Linked DNA regions of Homo sapiens: region 2 is linked to region 1. The links come from fine-mapping of genetic effects on gene expression. A gene starts in region 1. The other region holds a variant in brackets. All regions are shown on one strand. Distances are between the middles of the regions. Region 1 holds the start of ADAP1 (ArfGAP with dual PH domains 1). Region 2 overlaps ADAP1 (ArfGAP with dual PH domains 1).

Region 1 (2,891 bases):
CTATCTCCCCTCTGGGACACCCCAGCTCCTGATGTGGCCTTTCCAGCCAAGCTGCAGCTGGACAGCAGCCACCACGACCTGGGGCTGGCAGAGACCCCTCCATCCCAGAGGGAATCAGGGACACCCCTTTTTCCGGGGTGTCCAGAGGCTGCATATTGAACCAGGGCCTTGGAGGCAAATGCAAGGTCTTCCCCCGCTCCCTCCCTGGGGGCCTCAGTCACCGCCGGTGAGTTTAGGTTTGTTCCGAGGGGCTTAGACTATTGGCCCCCAGATTCCTGGTGTGCCTGGGGTGGCGGGACTGCTCCGGCGGGGCCCTCTCTCCACAGCGCAGCCGGCCTGGGGCTGACAGCTCCCGAGCAGGGCAGGGCTGGTCTGGGCACTGGGCCCCGTTCACAGCCAATGACAGGACCAGTGGCCTGGAAGGGAGGGACTCCGCGCCTTTGGACTCCAGTGCCTTGAAATCCCACAGACCTGGGAACCGAGTCAGGGATGCCCGGCCGGGAGAACGAACGGGCGGGCGGCGGGTGGACCAGGACCTGCGTCCGGCCCCACCTCTCCCAGGCCTCACCTGTCCTGGCGCCCGCCCCGGAGCAGCCAGGTGCAGGGAGCCGGGGGCAGGGGCGCCGCTCACACCCAGGGACCCCCGGTGCGGGAAGGGCGTGAGGCATGACGTCACCGCGAGGTGGCCCCGGAGCCGGCGGACCCCACAGCCCAGCAGAGACCTCCGGCTGGCGGCCCGTTCCCTCCCTGCAGCCAGCCCCGATTTCCTCTTTCTGTGCGGAGCCCGAGCTTTCGCAACGCGGCGGGCGGTCCGCGGTGACCGTCAGACACGCAGCCCGGCGGGGGAGGGGAGGCGGCGGCAGGGGGGTTTCCGGGGGTCCTGGGGGGGGCCCCCCCGCTGCGCCCGGCCCGGGAAGACGTCCGGGTCCCCGCAGGTGCAGCCGGGCCCGGGCCCCATCCGAGCGCCGATCCGGCCCGGTGTTCAGCGCCGCCACCCCCGCGGCGTCCGCGCTCCCCCGCCCGGTCCCCGGGGCCCACCCAGGACCCGCCCGGCACCCCGCGCCCACCCCGGACCCACCCGGCCCCGCGCCCACCCGGCCCACACCTACCCGGGGCGCCGCAGTCCGCGCAGCGCGCGTTCCCCGGCCGCTGCAGCAGCTCCAGGACCGCCCTGCGCCGCTCCTTGGCCATGGCCGCGATGCGCCCGCGATGCCGATGCCGGGGCCGGGGCCGGGAGCGTCAGCCCGGCTCGCTAGGGCCCCGCGCAGGCCGCCCGCCGCCGCCGCCCCTGCGCCATCCCGGGCGGCCTCAGCCCGCGCGCCGGTTCCGCATTCCCGCCGCCCTCTGGGCTCCGCCGCCGCCGCTCGTGTCTCCGCCGCGGTCGCTGAGCGAGTGCCGGCGCGGGGCCCGGGGCGCACGCTGCGCTCTGGCCGGCAAGGCCCGCGGGCGGCCCCCAGCGGTGCAGGCGAGCGTGTGGCCTCCTCCCTCGGCCGCTCCGGCGCCCCCAGCCCGCGCGCCCCGGGGACCCGCTGGGAAATCGCCCGCCGCCCGCCCCCCATCCGCGCGCAGCGTCCCACCTGCCTGGGCGCGAGGCCGCCCCAAAACCTGGCCGGCCTGGGTGGGACCCTCGTGCCGCCGCGCGCGGTGGGACGGAGCCTGCACACCTACTGTGGGGGGCGCAGAGGGCACCTGCCGAGCCCCCCAAGACCATGGGCATGGGGGTGCTCGTGGAAGGCAGGTGTGCGTGTCCTGTGCTACGGACCAGGACCAGGGCGCTCACACCATCCCTGCCTGGGAGGGACGGCCAGCAGGTGACAAACGCCAGCGTCCCAGGGCACTGAGGCCACACAGGGCCCAGACGGAGCCTCCCCCTGAGACCCACCCAGCCGCCCACCACCCACAGATGGGACCCTCTGGGCACCCCTCCCACTCAGGCAGGCTGAGGGGCCCCGCCGGGACTTCACATGGGGGCTGACAGGTAACAAAAAACCTGGTTTTGATGTCACCTCTTCCCAGACTCGCGTGCCCTTCCTCTGCACACCCCAGCATCTTTTCAAATTCTTTCCATTTTCTTCTTGCAGGGTTAATGCAGTACACCCGGCTGAAAACAAACTGGAACATACCAGACTGAAAAAGGAAAGCCTCTCCCCACTGCCTTCCAGGCAACCACTGTTAACAAATTCCTCAGCACCTTCCAGAACGAACGTCTGAGGCCTGTAGCCTTTCATTTATTTATTCATTTATCGAGACAGGGTTTTGGCTAACGGCTGTAATCCCAGCACTTTGGGAGACCCTGGCGGGTGGATCACTTGAGCTCAGGAGTTTGAGACCAGCCTGGGCAACATGGTGAAACCCCGTCTCTACTAAATACAAAGAAATTAGCCAGGCGTGGTGGCGCATGCCTGCAATCCCAGCTACTTGGGAGGCTGAGGCAGGAGAATCGCATGAACCTGGCAGGCAGAGGTTGCAGCGAGCCGAGATTGCGCCATTGCACTCCAGCCTGGGCAACAAGAGTGAAACTCCGTTTCAAAAAAAAAAAAAAAAAAAAAAAACCAAACAAACAAACTCAAAAAAAGTTCAACTGAACCATGACTTGTTCACCCAGTCACTGGCATAGGGGCATTTAGAGCGTTTTGAATGCATCAGAATCATGGTCTACACAACCTCATCTTTGCAAGAGTTTTGTGTGGATTTGCTCTCAAAGTGGCATCGCTGGGGCAATGGTATGGGATGTGGAATGGCCTCCACTGAGGCTGCACTGACCAGAGTGCCACCAAAGGCACCTGTCCCCCTGCTCCAGCTGACGTGGAATCATGGAGCTGCTTAAGCTCTGTCTACCTGAAGCAGAACGCGGCAGCCCGTTTTGGTCTGTGTCTCTGGGATCTGTGCCC
Region 2 (2,891 bases), 44 kb before region 1:
GGCGCTGGCCACGGTCCCGGACGCGCCCCACGCCCAGTCCAGACCTCAGGCTGAGCCTCTGCTCTCCCCATGCCTGGCCAGCCCCTTGGCCTCGCTGGGGAGGGCCAGGACCTCAGGGGCCTGCAGCCCCCAGTCGGCACCAGCAACAGCCAGTGAGACGGGGCTTCTCCCCACAGAGCAGCCCCTCACACGGCAGCGTCCTGGACAGCCGGGTGGGCTGTGGCCAGAAATGGCCATTTTCTCTTAAAGGACTCGTGAGTCCTGGGGCAGGACTCGACCAGTATTTATCAAACAGCTACCGCGTGCCGCGCCCTGCTGTGAGCTGGTCCCGCTGTGTGTCGGGTCCTATGGTGTGGGGTGGGGGGGGTTCTACTGCACACCAGGCCCTACTGTGTGCCGGTCCCACTGTGTGCCAGGTCTTGTCCCACCTGTGGGGAGCTGGGTCCAGTCCACACCCCATGCCCTGCTCAGACGCCTCTGAGGAGCCCTTCTGCCCACCGCACGGCTAAGAGCAGGAAAGACGTTCAGCATCGCCATGACCCACGAGAACGGCAAAACCAAACCAGTGTGCACACACAGGCGCCCGACTGTGGGCGGGGACGCCGGCCCTTCCACGCTGCCCGTGGGGATGTAAGGTGCCCCAGTCCCTGGAAAGCAGCCAGGCCGTTTCTTCCACCACAGTGAAGCGCGCACATCACGTGCCTCAGAGAGAAGTGAAATCCGAGGAAACAGGAACAGCCTTCACATAAAGCCCACACCCGTTTACGAGGCTTTTTTTTTTTTTTCCCCACCCAGGCTGGAGTGCAGGGGCACTATCACAGCTCACTGCAGCCTTGACCTTCCGGGCTCAAGTGATCCTCCAGCCTTGGCCTCCCGAGTAGCTGGGACCACAGATGCACGCCACCACACCCGGCTAAGTTCTGTATTTTTTTGTAGAGATGGGAGCTCACTGCGTTGCCCAGGCTGGTCTCGAACTTCTGAGCTCAGGTGACCCTCCTGCCTCTCCTCCCACCATACTGGGGTTGCAGCGTGAGCCCCACGCCTGGCCCGAGACTGCTGGGTCTTGGATTTGTCAGAGCTGGGACTGCACTCTAAATAGGATATGCAAAGTAGATGTAAATCACACCTCACGTATGTGATTTATATGCTAATTGTCTTGTAAACTGGGGCAGGGAAGCACGTGGCCCTGCTCTGAGTGACAGCTCACAGGGTGGTGGACCCTCTGGGGTGGGAACTGCATCCCCATATCTCATGGGGCCTCTGGCCTTCCACAGGGAGGGGTGCACCATGGATGGGTGGCCTCTGAGAACGGGGCCGAGGCCCTGATCACTGCACCCCGGCCGTCCCTGTGAAGGGCCTGGACCTGGCTTCCGGCCTTTGGGTCCTAGTGGCTCCTGCCCTCCCTCAGGAGGCAAACACCGGAGCCCACGGCAGAGCAGTGTCTCCTTGCTGGGTAAGGCCTTAGAGTTGAAGGCCTCCTCTGTGAGCCCGCACAGGGCTCCGTCTCTCCCTGCC[T/C]GGCCCGTCCACCCACGCTCTCCGACCCATTAATGCACCTTCTCCAGGTTGGTGCGTCTGGGGCCGGCAGAGGCTGAGAACCAGCGGGCCGTATCCTGCGGAGGGCTCCAGGTCCCAGCTTCGCCCTGCGTGGAGCTCTCTCTCCAAACAGCCAGGACAGGGAGGCTTCCCTGTTCCCAGGGGTGAGGCCAGAGGGTGGACGAGGGCTCCTGGGGTCAGCTCTCACCCTGTTCCTATTCTCATATAGCCCCCAGCATGGGGCCCGGCCCCCGACAGGCCTGGAGAGACCCCCCCACTCACACACGGGTTCACAGTTTCCACAGCGCCTTCCTGCCCAGAGTGACGTGTGGATGCCCCCATCCCCGCCAGGCTGCCCAGGCTGCAGGAGGGGCCACCCTCAGGGCCAAGTCAGCCCCAGGGTACCCCCCTCCCCAAGCCCCAAACCCTGAGGCCCCCACACAGGGGCCCCAGCGCCCAAGAACAGCGAACCCTGACTCCTGTAAGACAAACATGCCAGGAAAGGGGCGGGGATCACACGGAGGGCCAGGAAGGGGGCGGGGGTCCCACGGAGGGCCAGGAAGGGGGCGGGGGTCCCACGGAGGGCCAGGAAGGGGGCGGGGGTCCCACGGAGGGCCAGGAAGGGGGCGGGGGTCCCACGGAGGGCCAGGAAGGGGGCGGGGGTCCCACGGAGGGCCAGGAAGGGGGCGGGGGTCCCACGGAGGGCCAGGAAGGGGGCGGGGGTCCCACGGAGGGCCAGGAAGGGGGCGGGGGTCCCACGGAGGGCCAGGAAGGGGGCGGGGGACCCACGGAGGGCCAGGAGCCGACACCCACCCAGAGAGGGGCAATGGGGCAGCCCTACCACCTCTGGCCAGGCCCCAAACACCCGTCCCCCCGAGGGGCAGCCCCACAGCTCTGGCCTGGCCCCAAACACCCGTCCCCTCATGGGCCACGTAAAGCCTCGCGCTGCCTGCGAGGAACGGCTGGTGATGTTCCCAGTAGCGCCCTCGTGCCGCACACCATCGTCCCCACTATATGGACGGGGAAACCGAGGCCCCAGACCTCGTGCACAGCCCCAGCCCCCTCCTGGGCTCCGTCTGCCCTGTGACATTTACGGCAACGGTCGGCCCATCCCTGCCTGGTACCACCAGGAGGGGCCGTCCTGAACCACAGGGGAACCACAGAAGCTCCGACAGGAGCACGGGGTCCGGAGCCTAGAGCAGGAAGCCCCGCGTCTCAGCGAGACCAGGGCCTGGCCCTCAGGACAACATGAGGCATTGTCCAGGCCCCTGTGAAAGCCGCCATTGAGGCTGCGGCCCGAGGCGGGGCCAGCCCGCGGTGGGAGCAGCTGTCACCAGGGTCACCCCCAGGGGCAGGCG

Evidence for each region.
Region 2: its variant is fine-mapped to the expression of ADAP1 in whole blood (INTERVAL, PIP 0.99).

The regions. Positions count from the first base shown.
Region 1 is chr7:953,287-956,177 of GRCh38, forward strand. It overlaps ADAP1 (ArfGAP with dual PH domains 1), which reads right to left and starts at 1,394. Exons shown (of 11, transcript NM_006869.4): 1 at 1,110-1,394. The coding sequence starts at 1,191. It overlaps LOC124901569 (a long non-coding RNA gene), which reads left to right and starts at 1,568. Exons shown (of 2, transcript XR_007060178.1): 1 at 1,568-1,978; 2 at 2,082-2,204. RefSeq lists enhancers at 1-455, 1,678-2,287 and silencers at 581-790, 1,081-1,570, 1,590-1,745, 1,601-1,700.
Region 2 is chr7:909,500-912,390 of GRCh38, forward strand. All of the region lies in intron 4 of ADAP1 (ArfGAP with dual PH domains 1), which reads right to left. Among named protein-coding and RNA genes, the nearest start is that of GET4, 34 kb to the left of the region's middle. The variant T/C (reference allele first, on the strand shown) is at 1,516.